2 separate regions of the Homo sapiens genome follow, and region 1 is linked to region 2. Evidence: fine-mapped expression QTL. A gene starts in region 2. The other region holds a variant in brackets. All regions are shown on one strand. Distances are between the middles of the regions.

Region 1 (5,361 bases), 58 kb before region 2:
TTCCTGGGATGAGGGGTGGGATTGGTTGCTGATTCATCAGTGTCTGGTTGTGCAAGAGAACAGAAATGTGTGTGGAAGTGTCCCCAAAGAGGCAGACACTTGTAACTTTCGCAAATATGACTTAGCAAGAAGAAAATATTTACATTTGAAATTATTTCAAAATTTAAAAAGAATATATAGAAAAATGGGCAAAAGACATGAACGGCCACCTCACATTAAAAGCAACACCAGTGTCCTCATCGTGAAACTAGACGCCCGATCTTATCCTCGAAGCAATGAATGCTCAACAGGACCTGCTGCTCAGCAGGATGGCAGGAGCCGGAGACGTGGATGCTGTTCAGGCTTGTTGAGGGTGTGGGAAAAAGGGGCTGTTTGTATTCTGTGTGGGCCTGAACTGGGTTGGGTTTTTGAGGGCAGCTTGGAAATACAGCCATTGTAGTTTTAATCTGTAACTTTTACTGGAGTTTTAATTTGTACACTTCTATTGGAGTTTTAATTTGTATACTTTTATTGGAGTTTTAATTTGTATACTTTTATTGGTTTTAATGTGTATACTTTTTGACTGAAAAATTCAACTTTAAGGAATTTCATCAGAATTATACAGATTCACTGTTGCATTATTGCAAAATGTGAAAAAAATTTAAATGTCCATCAATAGAGAATTGGGCAAATAAATACGATAAATATATGTAGCCACTAAAGGTAAAATGTATACATGCACAGATATTTCCATCTTTAACATGTCATTTTGGGAAGCTCATCACAGAAATTGTAGTATAAATCTCCTATACTTAAAGTACACATTTGCAGATTATATAATCAAATTTTTACCTGAGTGCGCATTGCTGTTGTAATTAGAAAAGCAGTGTGACGTAGCAAAGATGCACGGAAGTGCCTCCCTCCCACACGCACTCAGTGCTCGTGGGACGTTGAGGTGAGGAAGTGCCTCCCTCCCACGCTGCACGCAGCTCTCGTGGGGCGTTGAGGTGAGGAAGTGCCTCCCTCCCACACTGCACGCAGCTCTCGTGGGGCGTTGAGGTGAGGAAGTGCCTCCCTCCCACATGCACTCGGCTCTCGTGGGACGTTGAGGTGATGATTTCTATGATCTGTTTCTGCTTTTCAGCAACATCTGAATGAATTGATGACGAAGAAGTGGCTATTAGGGTCAAACGCTGTAGACATTATCTGTGTCACCGTGGAAGACTATTTCAACGATTTTGCCAAAATTAAAAAGCCGTATAAGAAGGTAAGAAGGTGGGACCTAGTTCCCTCATCACCTTGACGCTAGGGCTCACCTCTCACCCTGCTCAGAATTCAGCATCCAGCGAGTCCCTCCGTGAGTGAACGTTCACTTGTTGTCCTATCAGCCCAAGGGAGGCAATAGGCTCTGCGGACGCCACCTCCCTGGGACGGGGCTCTGGTGAGAATGGCCGGGGCCCTGTGGCATGGCCCTCGAGGTGGAGGGAGCCATGGTTCCCGGAGAGGCCCGCGTGCCCCGTCTTAGCTCCTTGCCTTCCACTCACTCCCTGAGGCCCCAGGGATTTCTTTCCGCTTCAGACCCTCCTTCCTGCAGGACCCAGGTTCCTCTTTCCTCCAAAGTGCCTGCCGCGTTTTCCAGATGCTGCGGTCGTTATCAAAGGACAGCAGCAGCCACTGACACGGGCCTGTCTGTGGACCGAGTGCTCATGCGCGGCACTGCCTCGCCCGCGTCTGTCCTGCTGGGGGCCGGAGCTGGCCTGGTGCGGGGGTCCAGGTCACCGTCACTGTTCCCCCACTGAGCCCCCGCTCCTCCTCTGCGGTGAGATGCCAGAGCCGTGGCGGAGCGAGGAGGAGTGGGCTCAGAGCCTCCGGGGAGCCACCGGGAGCCCCAGCCTGGGTTTCAATGAGGGTGCTCCTGGCCGCCAGAGCCGTGGAGCCTGCCGCTGACCGCGCGTGTCTCCCCAGAGGATGACGGCCGAGGCGCACCGGCGCGTGGTGGTGGAGTACCTGCGGGCGGTCATGCAGAAGCGCATTTCCTTCCGGAGCCCGGAGGAGCGCAAGGAGGGTGCCGAGAAGATGGTTAGGGAGGCAGAGCAGCTGCGCTTCCTGTTCCGGAAGCTGGCGTCCGTGAGTGTCGCGCAGGTCCGGGCTGGAGAAGGCCTGTCGCTCCGCGGCCCTGTTCAGCCTCCACCCCGGGACTCGGGCCAGTAGATGGGAGTGTGTCGTGTGTTTGTCAGGCGGGGGGAGCCTGGGTCCAGGTCCTGCCTGACCTTGTGGTTGGACACGAATGTCCACAGAGGTAGACGCGCCGGCCCCGCCGGCTTCCCGAGGCCGCCCACAGCTCCCTGACGGACGCTTCCCAGTCTGTCCTGCGCTGCGAGGTGCTGGCTGCCTCCCACGGTCTCGCCCTCACCCCAGACCCCTGGCCCTGTCACTGAGCTTTCAGAGTAGATCCTGAGGAGTCAGGTGAAGAGGGAGGTTCCCAGTCAGGAAGGGGCTCAGCCAGAATCCAGCTGCTCCCAGCGCCGCGGGACAGCCGAGGGCGGCTCCTCACATTGCTGCTGCCTTCCAGGGTTTCGGGGAAGACGTGGACGGATACTGCGACACCATCGTGGCTGTGGCCGAAGTGATCAAGCTGACAGACCCTTCTCTGCTCTACCTGGAGGTCTCCACTCTGGTCAGCAAGTATCCAGACATCAGGTAAGGGATGCACGTCTTAGAATCCTGCCTTAGAATCCTGGAGTGGAGCGGCAGGTCCCTCCTTCTGTCTGGGGCGGGTGGGGCTCCTGGTTCGCAAGTTCAGCCCTGCAGCAC[G/C]GCAAGGGTTCAGGTGCGGCACAGCGGGGCCCAGGCGCAGGGAGCAGAGCTGCTTCTGTGCTGCCTTCCACCTGGCCTGGGCTACAGTGTGGGTGGGTGGAGCTCGAGGGGCACATCCCGGGTGGGGACAGTGGGGTGGGGGCGGGGCTGTGACAGCTCTGCTGTGTGTGGTGGGGAAGATTTGGGCTGTGGAGTGGCCTCAGTGGGGCGAGTTTAGGAAGTTTCCTCTGTGCTCATGGTGGACTCGGGAGGGCCCAAGTGCAGCTTGGACCAGACACCTTCCGAGGACGTGATTACAGGGAGTCCCCAGTACCAGGTCCAGGGAAGGGGACCCACGCACGTCCCCCCTCCACCATGCTGGCTCCAGGCCCCAGGCCAGCCTTTGCGGCCCCTGTCTCAGGGCACCTGCCACTTCCCCAAGGGGCCACCTCCATGGCTGCAGCCGCGTCACCTCCGTCCCATCATCTCGCTGGTTAAACGTGGAAAAACGGGGTCTTGAGCTCTCCACGGTCTCCCCTCTGGTTGGGCCGGAACAAAGATTTATAAAAGCAGTGTTGAAAAATCTTTCTGCAATTGGATTGAGAAAAGACAGAGTAAGATGAAAATGCAGGCTTGTCTCCCGCTGAAAAGGGAAAGGTGCAATTTGTCTGCAGCGGTCCTCACCCCCTGTGTTCTGTCAGCTGGGGTGGTGAAGCCGTGAGTCCCTGGCAGCGTGGTGCATCACAGGGCTGCTAAGTGGGCATGGGCTGACATCTCCCCATCCCCAGGGATGACCACATCGGTGCGCTGCTGGCTGTGCGTGGGGACGCCAGCCGTGACATGAAGCAGACCATCATGGAGACCCTGGAGCAGGGCCCAGCACAGGCCAGCCCCAGCTACGTGCCCCTCTTCAAGGACATTGTGGTGCCCAGCCTGAACGTGGCCAAGCTGCTCAAGTAGCCTCCGCCGGCCTGCCCTGCTCGCCCCTCCACAGCCTCGGTCCCTGCCTTTAGAAACGCGGGACAGCTGATTGCTCTCCTTGGCCACACGTGCTCCTTTTAGCTGCACGGCCTGTCTTTAGGTGCCAGTGTGATGCACCGGGTGTGCGTCGAGTGAGCGTCCCGAGGCCACGTGCGGAGGCCCCTCACTGTGCTGTCAAAGGCCTGTGGGTGCAGGGCTCTGCCGCACAGCCTCTCTTGGGTGCTTGTTTGTTGCAGTGGTTGAAAGTGTGTGGGGCACAGAGGACGTGCACCTCCCTGCCCTCCTCCTCCCTGGGCCTTCACCGCACCCCATCTGCTTAAGTGCTCGGAACCCCGTCACCTAATTAAAGTTTCTCGGCTTCCTCAGAGAAATGAAAACGCCATGCATTCTCTTTTCCAGTTAAGGTTTTCTGACTACTGATCTAGGATTGCCCAGGAACTGTTGTCAATCACAGAGTAAAAGTCTCCGCTCAGCCTGGAGGGCGCCCTCCTGGTCCCCTCCTGTCTGACATCCCCTCAGCCTAGAGGGCGCCCTCCTGGTCCCCTCCTGTCTGACATCCCCTCAGCCTAGAGGGTGCCTTCCTGATCCCCTCATGTCTGACATCCCCTCAGCCTGGAGGGCGCCCTCCTGGTCCCCTCCTGTCTGACATCCCCTCAGCCTGGATGGCGCCCTCCTGGTCCCCTCCTGTCTGACATCCCCTCAGCCTAGAGGGCGCCCTCCTGGTCCCCTCCTGTCTGACATCCCCTCAGCCTGGATGGCGCCCTCCTGGTCCCCTCCTGTCTGACATCCCCTCAGCCTAGAGGGTGCCCTCCTGATCCCCTCATGTCTGACATCCCCTCAGCCTGGATGGCGCCCTCCTGGTCCCCTCCTGTCTGACATCCCCTCAGCCTAGAGGGTGCCCTCCTGGTCCCCTCATGTCTGACATCCCCTCAGCCTAGAGGGCGCCCTCCTGATCCCCTCATGTCTGACATCCCCTCAGCCTGGAGGGCGCCCTCCTGGTCCCCTCGTATCTGACATCCCCTCAGCCTGGAGGGCGCCCTCCTGGTCCCCTCCTGTCTGACATCCCCTCAGCCTGGAGGGCGCCCTCCTGATCCCCTCCTGTCTGACATCCCCTCAGCCTGGAGGGCGCCCTCCTGGTCCCCTCGTATCTGACATCCCCTCAGCCTGGAGGGCGCCCTCCTGGTCCCCTCCTGTCTGACATCCCCTCAGCCTGGAGGGCGCCCTCCTGATCCCCTCCTGTCTGACATCCCCTCAGCCTGGAGGGCGCCCTCCTGGTCCCCTCGTATCTGACATCCCCTCAGCCTGGAGGGCGCCCTCCTGGTCCCCTCGTATCTGACATCCCCTCAGCCTGGAGGGCGCCCTCCTGGTCCCCTCGTATCTGACATCCCCTCAGCCTGGAGGGCGCCCTCCTGGTCCCCTCCTGTCTGACATCCCCTCAGCCTGGAGGGCGCCCTCCTGGTCCCCTCCTGTCTGACATCCCCTCAGCCTGGAGGGCGCCCTCCTGGTCCCCTCCTGTCTGACATCCCCTCAGCCTGGAGGGCGCCCTCCTGGTCCCCTCCTGTCTGACATCCCCTCAGCCTGGAGGGTGCCCTCCTGGTCCCCTCCTGT
Region 2 (5,361 bases):
CCAGTGCACACAAATAGGGGGCTTGTGGGGAGCCCTTGCCGGAGCCAGACACGCGGCCTGAGGCTGGTGGGCCAACAGCAGCACCTGTTCCTTGCCCAGGCTCCTGGGCCACCTGCTGAGGCCCCAGCCCCAGTGTTTGCTTGAGGCAGCTCTGGCCCTCTGGCCATCCTCTGTCCCAAGCTGCCTGGAGTAGAAATCTCCTGGGATCAACATTGCTGTGGGTTTCAGGGTACCCGGACTCTTATTTCCCCAACCAGGTTACAAATGGCTTGAAGAAGGCTGGGGCTGTGAGTTAGAAACTCTCAGGATGTGTGAGAAATTCAACAAATGTTTGGAAAAGCAACAGGAATGGCAGCTCTTTTCTGCTGGAAGAGACATTTCTGTTCGTGTAACTTGAGACTGAAAGAGTGTGGCCAACCCCTGACCATTTTAAACAACAAAATGTGCCAAGCAGCTTAGTAGGTTCAGACCCCAGTCCGGGGGCTGTGGGCATGTGGAGGAGGCTGGGTGAAACTGGAGAAGTTCCCGCTGTGGTGCAGGCTTGGGCCCCGGTGTCTGTGAAGGCCTGGACCTGAGGGTCCTCTGGGAACACAGGTCGTGCACCTGAGGCTGGCTGCACAAGGAGGACGGTCTGGGCCAGTGGAATCTGAGAAGTCCAGAGTTCACAGGGAAGGGGTTGGGGGAGGAAGCACACAGGGAGGGCTGGGGGCTGTGTTCAAGAGGTGTGGCTGGCAGAGAGGGGATGGAGGGTGGGACACCCTGGGGGCCAATCCGGGCAGACCCAGAGCAGACCTCAGCTGTCACTGCCGGGGCTGCAGAGTGCACAGTGGGTTGAGGGGACGACAGGGAGCGTAAAGGGCAGGTCTGGAGAGGGTCTGCGCCTGTGGGATACCGCGATGAGCTCCCACAGCTGCACAGGGTAAGGCTCGCCTTCCCAGGTGGAGCCAACAATCCGAGACAAAGACAGCCGCTGAGTGCTATCAGGGTGGGCCTTTGTAAAGGACCGCCCTGCCCCGGGGAGTTGCTGCTGGAGCCGGCAGCCTCCCCGCCCTCAAGGACGTCTTCCCAGAACCAGTCCAAGTGTTTGGGAGACCTGAAGGCTTTTCCCTGTGAATAACAAACTCTGAGGCCAGGCAAAGCCCTGGTCAGTGTGCCTTATCTGCCGGCTCCCAGGCGGGGCTGGCTGGTGCCTGGCGGCTGTCATTGGACCTTCAGATGCCAGATTCTGACTCTGTACACTGGGCTAAACTGGGAGAGGCCCCAGCTTGTACAGAAATTAGATATTCACGGCCGGGCGCGGTGGCTCACGCCTGTCATCCCAGCACTTTGGGAGGCCGAGGCGGGTGGATCACCTGAGGTCTGGAGTTCAAGACCAGCCTGACCAACATGGAGAAACCCTGTCTGTACTAAAAATACAAATTAGCTGGGCGTGGTGGCTCATGCCTGTAATCCCAGCTACTCGGGAGGCTGAGGCAGGATGTGGAGGTTGCAGTGAGCCGAGATCGCGTCATTGCACTCCAGCCTGGGCAACAAGAGCAAAATTCTATCTCAAAAAAAAAAAAAAAAGAAAAAAAAAGAAATTACCTTTTCAGTTTACACCAGGGGGGCACTCCCGTCAGAGGAAAGCAGGGTGAGCTTTAGGACTGGGCGGCCGCAGAGCCCAGGTTGAGTCTGGACCTCCCTGATGCCCCAGGGGCCCTTCTCAAGGAAATCAACTGTAGGAGGCAGCCAGCCTCAGAGACTCCCCCCCGGCCAGCATCCCAAGCCCCCAGTGGAAAGCCCAGGGAGGACAGCCTGAGCCTGGAGAGCAGGCAGCCCGGCGGGGAGCTGAAAGACACCAGGGCGAGGAGGAGGCTGCGGAGAAGGGAGGAGGCGGGAGGGCTCAGAAGAGCCCTTATGAGACAGAAAGCAAACACACAAGGGGCCTGAAGGGGAGGGGAGACCCTGGCATAAATAGGGCAGGCGGCAGGCGTCACTGAAGGAAAAGGCGCCTTCTCCAATCAAGCCTGCTGGGCGTACCAGGTTCCACCAAGGCCAAGGTCCTCTCAGCTGTTCTCCCCGGAGCCTGTCCCTCCCCTGTCCTGCGTGGGCGCCCCTCCTCGGCCCCAGCATCGAAACCTCCTCTCGCCCCAGTCCAAAGCTGCTCTGGAAACCTGCCGCGGCGCCTGCTGCTCTGATCTTGCTTCTCCTGGCCCCACTCGGGCCCCCTAATCCCCCCTCCACACGAGTGACCACCTCCCTGCCACCCCTGGAGAGACCCTACCCTGTGGACCAACACATGAAACTTTGATCCCCACGAGCTCCTCAGGAAGCTGACCTTCCTGTCACCTTGCCAGGAGCTACCTGCCGTGCCCACATTACTGGTTCATTGGCGCCGGTTAAGAAGAAGAGAAATCTGACCGACCGGGATTTTCTAAAAAAAAAAAAAAAAAAGGAGGCCCGCCAATGGGAACGCTGCGCCTGTAGGGAGGATTCTGCTGGGTTTCATGCGGGTAGCACCGCTTTTCTTTTCTGCCCTTGTAACTCACGAAAAAACGCCATCACTCCAAGGACGTTTCTCTAAAAAGCCTGAGAACCCCGAAGGAAACCCGGCCCCGGGGACTCCCTGGGCGCGAGCAGCCTGCAGTCTGCGGGGCTCGGAGCGGAGGCGGGGCGGAGACCCCACAGGGACCCGGGAGCCGGGAGTCCGGGGCTCCGAGGCTGTGCCCCCGCCGGGGAGGGGAGACCTCGGGACCCGCAGGGGCGGCTTAGCGCGGCCAGAGTCGCTCCCGAGTCTCGCTCTGCTGGACCCGAGAGCCGGACTCTCCCGGGCGGCCGCCGCGCGGCTCCGACCTGATGCGCGCGGCCACAACGAAGCCCCCAGGCCCAGCAGAGGCGGCCGCACACCCCGCGGGCAGATCCGGAGACCCCGGGGCCACTTACCGATCTTGGCCAAGCTGGCCACGAGGATCCAGAGCGCGATGACGTAGGGATCCTGCACGTGGGCCCACTCGAAGGTGACCACCTGGAAGCCCCCGCTCTCGCCGTGCGCGCCGCCGGGCTCCACCTCGACGCCCCCGGCCCGCGCCAGCCCGCCCAGCGCCAGCGCCAGCAGCAGCCCCCGGTCGGGGCCCCGGGCCCCGAGTCCCCACATTGCCGCCTGCTCAGCGCAGGGCTGGGACGCGCATGTCGCGGGGGGTCCCGGCTGGGCTGGGCCGACGCGCGGGGCTGGGACCCGGCGAGGACCCGGCGCGCTCCGGTGCCGGTACCGGCTACAGTCCGATCCCCGCCCGCCGGGGTGGCCTTTAATCCCGCGGCCCCCTCCCGCCCCGGGGCGGAGCCTGCCCGCCCCCGCCGCGCACTCGCGAGCGCAGACACCGCCGCAGCTCCCGGCACGCCCGCCCCGCCCGCGCACGCCCACCCCGCGCTCCCTGGTGCCCACCCTCCCCCGGAGCCCGCGGCCTGGAGGTCCGGGAGGTCGCGGCAAGAGCGAGCCCGGGACTGCGCGGCCGCCTTCCTGGGGCGTGGGGAGCACAGCGCGGGGCAGCGGGACAGGCGGTTCCGCGCAGCTCCTGGGATGCCCGGGCAGCTGTGGGTGCGCTCGCCCCAACCCTCCTTCATAAACGCAGGGCCTGGGGCTGCGCAGACCCCACAGGGCGGCCCAAGGGTGCACAGGGGCCCCAGGTGTGTCTTCACACAGCCCCTCGCTATTGTCTTCAGCAGGAACCTGCATTCCACAGCCGGACCGGCCACTTACCAGAACTCGGGGGCGCCCAGGCCTTGCGTGGTGCGCTGGTAAGTCTCTCTGCCCCTCCCATCGCCAGCCAGCATCCCCCACCCCAGGCTCTGAGATGGGAGCCCAGGGGCCCCCGTGGTCTCCCCTGCCCCATCCCCTGCCTTTAGACCTCCGCCCAAAACAATTCGATACCCCCAGGGCTTCACACGGATGCGGGGCCTCTGCCCACAGCCCGCTCCGGCAGCACTGGCTCTCTTAAGCATCTCAGGCTCCACTGTGCAAACCACACCCCTGTTTTCCTCCAAGCCCACCCTGCAGCCTTCCAGCCCCAGACCTGGGACGCAGGTGGACTTCTTTCGCTCACAAGGTTTCCAAGCTCTTAGCATATCTGCTCTACTTTCAAAATGTGCACAAAACCAGCGGCTTCTGGGAGCCTGCAGCCACCTGCAAAGGCTCCTGCTCGGCCCTCTACCTGCCCCTTCAGTCCCTCCTATTGGGACCCTCCCTCTCAGAGGAAAGGCTCAACGTCTCCCGGGAGCTCAGACCCCAGCCACTGCCTGACCCCCACCCCCATGCACTCCACGGCCCACACCAGCAATCGGCGCCTCTCGGGGCCTTTGCACGCCCTGCTCCCTCTGTTTGGACGGCTCTTGTGTGCTCCCTTCCTCAGCTCCCCAGGGGCTTGGCTCCAATGCCACCTTCTGGTCCCACCCGATACCCACTCAGCTCACAACTGTGGCAGCTAAGCTCCCGCCTCCCCTGCTTACTCGGTTGGCTCCGGGAATCAGCTCACCTCCCAGCCCTGGGGGCTGCTGGCTTTGACCTTGAGCTGTCTGCCCTCACCCTGGGAATGTCTGCTCCACGAGCAAGGGGCTCATGCATACATCCCAGGAGCTTGGAAGATAGCTGGGCACACAATAGCACTCGCAAGATAGTGGCTGAGCGGATGGATGATAGATGGATGGAAGGACAGATAGGTGGACAAAGGGCAGGTGGGCGGTGGGGTGGGTGCAGATGGAGGATGGATGTGTCTTCTGACATCTGAGTGGGGGCTGCGGAGGCCTGAGGAGGACAGTGCTGAGTTCAATGACTTCACCCTGCAAGGGCCCCAGTTTCATGCTAATGGAAGTGGCCCGTGTAGCACAGGGAAGGTGCATTCAGATGGTGCTCGCCTGGTGACTCGGCTGCTGAGTGGCGTGGAGGGAGGGCAGCCCTGGCCTGGGCCACTGCAGGGTCTGGACAGGGCACCGGGGGAGTGGAAGTGTGTGACTGGCCACTAGTATGGTCTTGCGAGGTGGGAGCATCGGAGTCGCTCTTGGCCTGTGTCCCTGCCCCACCTGTCTCTGTCCCCCACTCCACTCCCAGCCTCTTGTCCCAGAGAAAAAGCCAGCAGGACAAGAACAGGATTCCCTCCAGTCCGGAGCTTCCCTGCTCTTTCCTTATGGTTCCTGGGTGGAGCCGTTAGGAACGACGTCCTCTCTGAAGATGTTGCCCTTGCATTCCACAGGAAGGCCAAATTTCCACCAGACCAGTGTGTTCCATGATGCCCACTGGACCTCCGGCCACCCCACCCCCCAACCAGCCTGTCCTAAGAGCCGACAACCTTTCTCCACAAAGCTGTTCAAAGGGCAGAAGAGCAGTGTCAC

The links. PIP is the estimated chance that this variant, and not a neighbour inherited with it, causes the effect. A credible set is the group of variants that fine-mapping cannot tell apart.
Region 1: its variant is the best candidate, but not a certain one, in a credible set for the expression of SLC9A3 in atrial appendage (GTEx, PIP 0.87).

The regions. Positions count from the first base shown.
Region 1 is chr5:463,167-468,527 of GRCh38, forward strand. It overlaps EXOC3 (exocyst complex component 3), which reads left to right. Exons shown (of 13, transcript NM_007277.5): 10 at 1,124-1,246; 11 at 1,945-2,106; 12 at 2,552-2,679; 13 at 3,561-4,124. The coding sequence ends at 3,732. Among named protein-coding and RNA genes, the nearest start is that of SLC9A3-OT1, 7.1 kb to the right of the region's middle. The variant G/C (reference allele first, on the strand shown) is at 2,794.
Region 2 is chr5:521,190-526,550 of GRCh38, forward strand. It overlaps SLC9A3 (solute carrier family 9 member A3), which reads right to left and starts at 3,260. Exons shown (of 17, transcript NM_004174.4): 1 at 2,923-3,260. The coding sequence starts at 3,133. It overlaps LOC107986395 (a long non-coding RNA gene), which reads left to right and starts at 3,469. Exons shown (of 2, transcript XR_001742543.1): 1 at 3,469-3,774; 2 at 5,223-5,361. RefSeq lists an enhancer at 4,827-5,361.